Linked DNA regions of Homo sapiens: region 2 is linked to region 1. The links come from fine-mapping of genetic effects on gene expression. A gene starts in region 1. The other region holds a variant in brackets. All regions are shown on one strand. Distances are from middle to middle. Region 1 holds the start of ATP11B (ATPase phospholipid transporting 11B (putative)). Region 2 overlaps ATP11B (ATPase phospholipid transporting 11B (putative)).

What was found.
Region 2: its variant is fine-mapped to the expression of ATP11B in whole blood (INTERVAL, PIP above 0.99).

What each region holds. Positions count from the first base shown.
Region 1 is chr3:182,791,338-182,796,723 of GRCh38, forward strand. ATP11B (ATPase phospholipid transporting 11B (putative)) reads left to right here and starts at 2,167. Exons shown (of 30, transcript NM_014616.3): 1 at 2,167-2,449. The coding sequence starts at 2,423. It overlaps ATP11B-DT (ATP11B divergent transcript), which reads right to left and starts at 2,027. Exons shown (of 3, transcript NR_187316.1): 1 at 1,743-2,027. RefSeq lists a silencer at 2,002-2,751.
Region 2 is chr3:182,873,138-182,878,523 of GRCh38, forward strand. ATP11B (ATPase phospholipid transporting 11B (putative)) reads left to right here. Exons shown (of 30, transcript NM_014616.3): 19 at 675-878. Among named protein-coding and RNA genes, the nearest start is that of ATP11B, 82 kb to the left of the region's middle. The variant T/C (reference allele first, on the strand shown) is at 2,101.

The sequences.
Region 1 (5,386 bases):
TGAGACTCCGTCTCCAAAAAAAAAAAAAAAAAAAAAAAAAAAAGGCTTAAAACACTACCTGGGCTGCTCATTCTGTTCCTGACAGTTTGAGCTTCAATTTGATCTTTACATAGTTACCCTGAGATTACTTCTTACCATATTCCACCAGAGCACTAGGAATCAAGCCCTTCCTTCTCCCAACTTCTTCCTTTTGAAATTTGGGGCACAATTAAATAATGATACACAAAGTATTCTCCAGATCGCTATTTCTTATGTTATCTTGAAAAATTTTAGCGGCATATAAATAAAAATTTCCAGGCCTAATTTGTAATCAAACCATTTGCAGATGAATAAAAGTAGGCATGGCCATATTTTTATTTTTGGACGTAGCTTAAGAACATGAGCACTATTGCCTGACAATCCAGAATCTGAATCCTAGCTTTGCCAAATTAGTGTGAGCCTCCATTTCTGCATCTATACAAAACGGGAATAATACCTACTTCAAGGGATTGATTGGAGTTAAATTACAGCATACAAGTAAAGAACTTGATACAGGACCTGGGTGCTCCATGAATGGACACAGTGCTCCATGAATGGCAGTAAGGTTTTGTCACTAAATATATCTCAAAACTTCCTTTTAGGGTCATAAAGTAAGGTTTAGCCACAAGAATAAAAGTAAGATGACTTTTCAAATATCTAGCTATTTTTTGAAGTTGGATGATTTATAATATAAAATTCCATGTTGGTTTTACAGATCATAAATATCCCCAAAGAAAGATTCTATTTGTGGTGCTGGATAAGCATTATATAGTAAGAAATGTCTACTGAAACTAGAAGATTGAGGATGCATATTCAACGACCTGCCTAGTCATGCTAATCTCATTTAGATTTGTTCTTGCTTAATTTTTTTTTTTTTTTTTTTTTTTTGAGACGGAGTCTCCTTCTGCCGCCCAGGCTGGAGTGCAGTGGCGCCATCTCGGCTCACTGCAAGCTCTGCCTCCCGGGTTCACGTCATTCTCCTGCCTCAGCCTCCCGAGTAGCTGGGACTACAGGCGACCGCCACCACGCTCGGCTAATGTTTTGTATTTTTTAGTAGAGATGGGGTTTCGCCATGTTAGCCAGGAAGGTCTCGATCTCCTGACCTCGTGATCCACCCGCCTCGGCCTCCCAAAGTGCTGGGATTACATGGGATTACAGGCGTGAGCCACCGCGCCCGGCCGCTTAATTTTTTTTTTTTTAACCACAAACGTCTGTCGGTGAAGTGTGCTTTAATTCAGCAAAAATACAGCATTCAATACATATACATAACACAATATGTATACGGGGCTGCTTTTAAACAACGCCAAACCTTTAAGTCAAAGCCTTGTTCCAGTTGCTTGTATATTCCTTCTGAGCTTGTCATCCACACACTTTTTTAACCTAGGTCAAGTTACTGCTACGGGTGTTTTTGATTGCAGAAGTTTGGCAGTTAGCAGTAAAGAACTACCTTTTTATACAAATTATCTTCCCCTGAACCTGTCCAATTTAGCACACGGCAAGACAGAATATCTCATCCATTCGCCTAGAAACACGGGTCCAGGCTGTACCAGGCTCAGGGGACTTGCAACGCTTTCGAATCACTTAATGGGTGTGATCAAGATTTCCCTAGCCCCGTCTCAGCCATTTGCTAAAGAAGAGGCCTGACTTGTGTTGAGACGAAAGCTCTTACAGCTTGATGGAACCCAAACTGGGACTTCTGGGGGGATTAACTTTCAGTCACATACGTTCAGGACTGTGCGTATGCGTGTCGGGAGACGCGTGAACCAAAGAAGCCACAGAGCCCGAAAAAGACCTGCAACAGGAGGTAGAGACCGAGGAATCGGCCCCAAGCTGCAGACTCCGGAGATGGCCAGACCCACAGACACGACTTAATCCCACTCCCAGAACGGGGAGGAGGGTGGCAGTGGACAGAAACAGCGTTCGAGAACCCGGCACCTTTCCACGCTCGCTTCTTCCCGGACCCACAACACAGAAACCCCCCAACTCGGAACGGCGGCGGGGCGCGCCAGGCCCCCCTCGGTCCGCGCACCCCCTTTCGTCACGTCCGGGGGCGGGCCGGGGCGCCGGGGGCGGTCCCGGGTGGAGCCGGGGGGCCGGGCGGGGCGGGGCGGGGGTGGGGTTGCGGGGGTGCTTTGGGTGACAACGGTCAATAATGAAGGTGGCTGCGGCGCGGCGGCAGGCTCAGCTGCGCCGGGCGGGGGCGGCGCCGGGGCCGCGCCTGTAGGACTCGGGGCCGACGCCGCGGGATGGGGACGCGGCGCGGGGAGTGAGGCAGTGGCGGCGGCGGCGGTAAGCGGAACTTCGGCCCGAGGGGCTCGCCCGCTCCCGCCTCTGTCTTGTCGGCCTCCACCTGCAGCCCCGCGGCCCCCGCGCCCCGCGGGACCCGGACGGCGACGACGGGGGAATGTGGCGCTGGATCCGGCAGCAGCTGGTAGGTGCCCCCGCCCCTCCACCTCCATTCGTCCGCCCCCGCGGGGCCTCTCGGCCCGGGGTGGCGGGGAAAGGCCGGCGGCGCGGAGCCGGGAGGCCAGGGCGTGGGCGCCCGGCTAGGCCGCAGCGGAGACGGGCGCGGGGCCCAGAGCCGGAGAAGCCCCGTGCGGCTCCCGGGCTCGTCTCGCCTCCAAGCCCGGGCCGCCGAGGCTGGCGCCGAGCGGCCGGAGGCGGCCGCTTCTAGCCGGCGCTTCTCCGTTACTTCTTCCCCCTTGCCGCTCCGGGGCTGCTGTGGCCAGAGGCGGGAGTCCCGAGCGGGGTGGCGGTGCCCCCAGAGGAAACAGGGCGAGGGAGCTGAGCGAGAGTAGGTCTTGGGGAGATGAGAGAGGCGTGCTCTTCCTGCCTCGAACAATTTGGGACGTGTTTGGGTGAAGGGGAAGCGAAGAACCTGTCTTCTGCCCCCACTCGTCACGGACTTCTGGAAGCGTGTCACGATCCAGAGCTGTGTTGATTCCCGAGGAGGAGGCTGTCGTAGGTGTCTAGCCCCCTCAGCGAGAGACGTTTCTCCCCAGGACCTGGAAAGGGGAAAGACTGTGCCAGCTGCCGGTCTAGCTTCGGAAACGATACGTATTGTACGATAGTTACGAACGATACGTACTGTCGTTTCCTTCCTACCTCGTCCTCACCCCACCCCGAGTGAAACTTTTCGAGTGTGAACCTTACTTTTTTCCCGTTCTCCTCAAGGCAGTTTGAACGACACAGGTTTGGAAGGAATAGTTAACTCTCCAGTATTATTGGAACATCTGGACACCACCAACAAAAAATCTTAGAAAAGGGTCATTTAAGGCCTATAAAAAGTGCCACCTTTCCCAGAATTAATTCAGAGAGAAAAATCTTATCTGCCTCCTGGCAGCTACAGCGCAGAAAGTACAGCATTAAGGCAGCTGTGACAATTAGGACAGAAATTGCCCCTGGCTGAAGAAGCCTAACCTTATCTGTGTGATGAGGCCGGTTACTATTTAATTTCTAAATCGCATTAACTTAATGCTTCTACAAGTTGGCGTTTTCATTTACTAATTCTAAAGGCAGTGGTAAAATTTAGTGAAACAGGAACTATTTTTGTGGGACGAAAGCACTGATAACTCTTTTTCCCTTCTGCTCTAGAAAAGCATTTTAACGTTAAGACCAAGAAGTGTGGTGTTTCAGAGCCAGCCTTCTGTTACTTCGTTTTGCAGCGGGCATCATTCTCAAAAAAAAAAAAAAATTATAAATAAGAACTGCCTACCACTCCCTCCTACAAATGTTGGGTCTCTGTTTTTAGCATTGTAAATTCAGATATCCCAGATATATGCTTTATTAGGAAACCAAGCTAATGATGTCATTATAATACCATCTTGTAATACTTTGGCTTTGTTGCAGTAAGCTGTAGCACAGTAATTTTACTCAGAAAGTTAATTATTACAGATTTGATCTTATGCTTTTGATTTGCCAAATCTTCTTGTATAGAGGGCTGATTTACCTGATGGTGTTTTTGTGTGGTAGGAAGATCATTTTAAAGTGGTTCTCTTGAAGCTTTTTTAAAAATGTATTGAGACATCCTTTCTCACTGTTAGGTATTTTTTAGCCAGAATAAAATCCTGGTTGTATAACCATGCTCATCTTCAAGACAGAAAACCTGGTAATGTTTTTTAAAATGGCTTCAAATGAACCCAGCTAAAAGGAAGGGCCGGAAGTTGTGTGTGGTTATTTTACAAGGCAGCCGTCTTAACAGGGATGGTTAACGAGTTGAACAAGTTCCTGTGCATAAAAAATGCTATCTCTGACATTTAGTTGCTCACCTCACTGGTTTTAAGTTATCAGATCCTCTAAGTATGTAATCATACTTGGGCCAATGTAGGACTTTGTGTCTCTGGTTAAGTTTGTATGATCACATAAATTAAACATCAAGGACCCTGGATACAGAGTAATGAAAGTATATTTTGCTATCCCAGTCATAGACAGCTATTCTGATTACTGCACCAGAAATTATTCAACTCAGGTAAAAGCTAGTTTAGATTATACTTCCAGTGGCTTAATGGATTGAATCACCACGACTTTCAGCAATGGGTTTATTTTAAAATGCAGATAACTAGGACAAATTTGGGGAAATTGACAAGCAAATCCTAAGGACAGGTTGGAGTTATAAGCATATTTAATTCGTTATATGAATCCCGATTTTCAACTAATGTCTCACAAAAAAGTCCTTTTATTACAGAAACAATGCCTATGTTCTAGTAATTTCTTTTTAATTAAAAAAAAGTGTGACTCCTTATGACAAAATATTTTCACTACTTGAGAAGATGGAAAAATCAGAAAGTTGACAGAAGCTTGATCTTTTCTATTGGGAAAGTAGGCTGAAAATAAAAAGATTGGAATATCCTTTTTTGTTTTTCTTTTTGGCACACAATGTTAAAGTTACTTGACACTAAGAAAATTCTCTTATGGTGTCTTTGTGGTACAGTTAGTATTATTCAAAGTATACTCATTTTCAGTACCATATTTTATGTATTAACTCATTAGAGATGACAATACCTTGATTATAATTATGGAAATGCCATTAGCTACTCACTGTATTCTAATATTTAGACCTGTACGGTAGCCATTAGCCACAAGTGGCCATTAAAATTAAAATTGGAGCCATATGTGGGTATTAAAATTAAAATTTGAATTCATGTGTCTATTGGCTGCCATTGGCTGCCATATTGGACAGTTCATATTTTCATTATCACAGAAAATTCTATTGGACAGCACCAATTTAGACTTTTAAATGAAAGTCTGTGTCAGTACATATTTGAATGTAATACTACATTTTTAAAGCACTTGCTGTGTGCTGGTATTAACAGATGCTGAATACCAGGGATACAAATGTTGGTCAGGGTCACACATACTCTACATAAGT
Region 2 (5,386 bases), 82 kb after region 1:
CTTCTCCTCTGTTAACCTGTGAAATCCTTGAAGTCCATTTATTCTTTGTCTTTGTTCCCAGAACCTATCTCAATGTCTGTTTCACAGTTTCTTAAATTTAGCTGAATTCTGAGATTGAATTCTGCAGATTAAGTTTGTTGTTATGTTTGCCTCCACCACCTAGACCTAAGGGTGTTTGCATATTTTTAAAATCTATGTTTTCATTTACTTTTTGGTTGTCCTTACGAGATTTCTGAGACTCACCTAAAGTTAGCTAGACCTTTATTTTCTACAGTCTGATTTTTTAACTATATGAGTGGTTTGAGATATTTTTTTAAATCAAAACAAAAGGAGAAAAATCTTCTTGTTTGAAATGTAAGACTTCGTAATAAAACAGGAGTTTATGAAGAGCACATAGTTTCATCCTATGAATAGCAACTTTGAAGATACATTCTTAAAATATGAAATTGTAGATTTTAATTGGTTGATTTTGTGTTAACCAGACAATTACCAATCTGTTTATTCGTGTTTCCTTCCTAATGAGAGAAAATTCCAGTTATATTGCTATATTGTATAATAACATTCCTAGGTCAAGTCAAAGAGTTTAGAATTATCCTTAAATATACTATGTAGTTTAACTTAAAATACAGTCATAAAAGTATTCTCTACTACTAATTTGTTTCTGTTCTTTTCAGACTACAAGATAAAGTTCGAGAAACTATTGAAGCATTGAGAATGGCTGGTATCAAAGTATGGGTACTTACTGGGGATAAACATGAAACAGCTGTTAGTGTGAGTTTATCATGTGGCCATTTTCATAGAACCATGAACATCCTTGAACTTATAAACCAGAAATCAGACAGCGAGTGTGCTGAACAATTGAGGCAGCTTGCCAGAAGGTAAGAATATAGGAACCTGTATCATACCTTTCAGGGGTTAGCAAACTATGGTTCCCTGGGCCCGATGATATAGCCCACTGTCACTGCCTGTTTTTTACAGCCTATCAGCTAAAAGTAGTTTTTACATTTTTTGATAGATGAAATCCAAAGAAGAAGAATATTTCATGAAGTGAAAAGTATATGAAATTCAAATTCCAGTGTCTATAAAGTTTGATTGGAACACAATCACATTCATTTGTTTACATATTACCAATGAGTGCTTTTACACTACAGCATCAGAATTGAGTAGTTGCAGCAGAGACTTTACAAAATACTCTCTCTTCAGCTTTACACTGCTGTTTGATACTCTACAAATCACAGTGAGATACATATAATGTGATAGTGTTTGGAGTGCCATGCATAGCACCATGTTGCGACATTTTACTGTTTTTTATTAGTATATGGCCATCATGTCAAAACAAGAAAAGAAAAGTGGACTTTTAACATTACGATTTTTTTTGAAGCACTGTGGATAGGGGATTATTTTATTTTTGAGTTAGATGGCAAAGCATTGTTTATTATGCATTGATATGTTAGCTGTGCTACCTGTTTGAAAAGACATTTTCAAAGATGAATTATAAATCTCATTACATACAGTTCTATCGTATGGAAATGTAAAAATCTCGTTACAGATGGACATTAACAGATGAACATTTGCAATGTTAACTTTGAACCCCAATTAAACAAAGTACTATCCCTTGCCCAAAAGAAGTATTTTCATTCTTCTCATTAGTAAACCTCTCTTATTTAAAAAATTATACTCAATGATTACTACATTTTTATCTTAGTGAAAATTTTGTTGAGATTTTTTCCTCTCATTCTGTAACTACCTATATCCTCAATTTTGCCTCTTGGCCCACAAAACCTAAAATTGAAATATTTACTCTCTGGCCCGTAACAGAAAACATTTGCCAACCCCTGATCTAGTTTGCATGACCAAACTGGGAAATTAAGCTGCATTTAATTGTTCAAGATTATTTCATAAGAATTTATACTCTAAATTCTGTCTTTTTTGTAAATCTATCTTTTATAGGCATATCAAATTTTTGCCCTGTATGGGGGCAAATGATGCCCCATTTAACACAGTCTAATTTTTCACAGTAAACTAGGAAGGGCTTCATTTGACCATCAGAGCTGCTTGTATGTAAGCATATTAGGTCTCCTGCAGGTTTCTGTTGTTTGC[T/C]GTCTTGTGATACTAATCCAGAAAAATAAATACCAAGAGACAAATACCATAGTTGTTAATATACATTCAGTGTTTTCTATTTATATTTTTTATGCAGGCATTTATGTGATACCAAGTCTGGATTTCATCTTTTTAAAACCTATTTAAGAGATATTTTAAAAAGACCATGCAGGGGATTTTTTGTTGTTGTTGTTTTGTTGTTGTTGTTGTTTGTTTGTTTTTTGAGACAGAGTTTCACTCTTGTTGCCCAGGCTGGAGTGCAATGACGCACTCGGTTCACCACAACCTCCGCCTTCCGGGTTCAAGTGATTCTCCTGCCTCAGCCTCCTGCGTAGCTGGGATTACAGGCATGCACCACCGTGCCCAGCTAATTTTGTATTTTTAGTAAAGACAGGGTTTCTCTGCATTGGTCAGGCTGGTCTCGAACACCTGACCTCAGGTGATCTGCCTGCCTTGGCCTCCCAAAGTGCTGGGATTATAGGTGTGAGCCACCGCACCCGGCCCATATAGGGTCTTCTTAAAATATCTCTTAAATAGGGTCACACTGGATCTTTGAGTGCAAAAAGACAATTAATTTAGGTAATTATACTACAATTTGGGGACAGTGTCAACAACATTGTGGCTATTTAAACGTTTAAATACTGCAATATCATGAACTCCCTAAAACACAGAAATTAATTGCTCAGAATCATTTACTTTATATATGCCTTTTTAAATATTTTTTTCTGGCTGGGCACAGTAGCTCATGCCTGTAATCCCAACACCCTGGGAGGCTGAGGTGGATCGCTTGAGCCCAGGAGTTTGAGATCAGCCTGGTCAATGTAATGAGACCCTGTCCCCACAAGAAATTTAAAAATTATCCAGGTGTGGGGGTGTGTACCTGTAGTCCCAGTTACTCCGAAAGCTGAGACAAGAGGATCACTTGAGCCCAGAAGTTCAAGGCTACAGTGAACTGTGCTCTTGCCTAAAAAATAAAAATAATTTTAAAAAATATTTTTCTGATTATAAAAATAATAAATGTCTACTTGAAAAATACTGAAAATTGTAAAGCTTATGCAGTGGTTAATAACAAAGTCATCAGAAGATTATTATTTGTAATTTAGGCTATTTTCTTTAAGTCTTCTGTATATAGGTGGTTTTAATGAATATGCTAATCATTAGTATTTGTTTTCTTTTCTGTACAAAAGCTGTATTATAAAACGTAGAGTACACTCTTAAAGTGAATTTTAGGCTTGCCGTCTTAGTCTGTTTGTGCTGCTGTAACAAAATACCTGAGACTAGGTAATTTATAAAGAACAGAAATTTATTTTTCACAATTCTGGAGGCTGGGAAGTTGAAGATCAAGGCACCAGCAAGTTGTATAGTGAGGGCTGCTCCCTGTTCCAAAATGGTGCCTTATTGCTGCATCCTTCTGAAGGGAGGATTACTGTGTCCACACATGGTGGAAGGGACGAAAGGCAAGAGAGGGCAAATCTCTGAAGCCTCTTTTATCAGAGCATTAATCCATTCATGAAGGCAAAGCCATTATGACTTAATCACTTCCGAAAAGGCCCCACTTCATAACAATGGGGGTTAACTTTCCACATTAATTTTGGAAGGGATTCGACATTCAAACCATAGCACTTTCTATGTGAAATTTATGTTATATTTTAGAGGTATCTTTTGATGGAATATATTTTATGAGATAACCATAGAAGTCAATAGGCCCATTCATTCACAGACTTTCAGGAAGTATCCTAAATCTTGATAAAAATCTGTCGCACAAAGAATTTCATGCCTTTGAAAGCTTTAGTATATATATCCATTCCTTCACAAAGATATATTGTCACCTGTCTAGGCATTTGGAACAGAGACATAAGGTGTGTTGTTTATGCCTTGGATACTTGGTGTAGGGAAAACAGAAAAGTAAATACACTGTCATAGTCCTATCCCTACAGAACTGTATCTGAGGCAAGAACAGAAGCTCTGGAAGGACAGAAGAGAGAAGCCTAGCCTAGACCAGGGGTACCAGGGAGAGCTCTGAACAACCAATGACTGTGTTGCCTCCTGTGGGGCGAAATGTTCACTGGACAGAGAGTGACACTAAGAAGCAAACGGGAGGCTGGGCACAGTGGCTCATAATCCTGACTTACAGGCACAGTGGCCAATAATCCCAGCACTTTGGGAGGCCAAGGAAGGCAGATCACTTGAGTCTAGAAGTTCAAGACCAGCCTGGGCAACATAGTGAAACCCCGTCTCTACAAACAATACAAAAATTAGACGTGTGTGGTGACACATACCTGCAGTCCCAGCGTCTTGGGAGGCTGAGGTGGGAGGATGTATTGAATCAGGGAGGTTAAGGCTGTGGTGAGTTGTGATCACACCACTGCACTCCAGCCTGGGTGACAGAGTGAGTTGCTGTGTCAGAAAAATAAAGGCAGCAAAGGGGGCAGTGCGTGCAGATTCCCAGAGCTGAGAGAGAGGAGGGCATATTCAAGGAAATAATTATAAAGTATGGCCAGGGAGTGGTATAGATGGGACAGGGTATGAAGAGTAGTGATGCATGAGGGCTACAGAGATGAGTAAATGCTACCTACGTGCCAGAGATGTAGGTGCTTTTCCATATTTCTTAAATATTATCCCATGGATTGTAAGATCATAATGTGATTCATGAAGCCTGTCCAGAGGAAAACCTAATTTCATGTGCCTTGGGAACTTTTCCTAGGAAAACTGATCTGCTCTGTCCCACTCTTGACTGCTAGCATTTCTGAGGCCTGTTCCTCAGGTAGTGCTTTGGACAGGCTGAAGACATTGGAGGCAGCACAAGTTGCCAAATAAAGTTTGGCCAATAGGGAAGAAAAATTGTCTATATAGGTGTTGATTTCAGATATTGGAGAGTTAGTAGTAATGAGAAAAATACATTTTATAAAACTTTATGGTATAAAGTGAATTGCTTACCACTTATAGCTACAGTACAACACAACAGTGATTAGGCATACTATGAAAGACATTGCTTTAACTTACGAAAGTTTCTTATAAGACTAAAATCTATCAATATATGTTTAGCTTTTATAGTGTGCTCATTTAATAGTCTTCTCACTTCTTATTTTTAAGTGGAGGGATAGTTCTCAGCAGAGTCTGATATTCTGTGAACCTTCGGTATTTTCTTGTGGTGTATATAGCACAGTGCTACACTGAGTACTGGCTTTCAGCAACATAAAGGAGCTTACATCAAAATGTAAATCTAGGTATACTTCCTTCATCAAGAAAGTATTATTACCAAAGGAGAATTGTGGGGGGAAGCAGT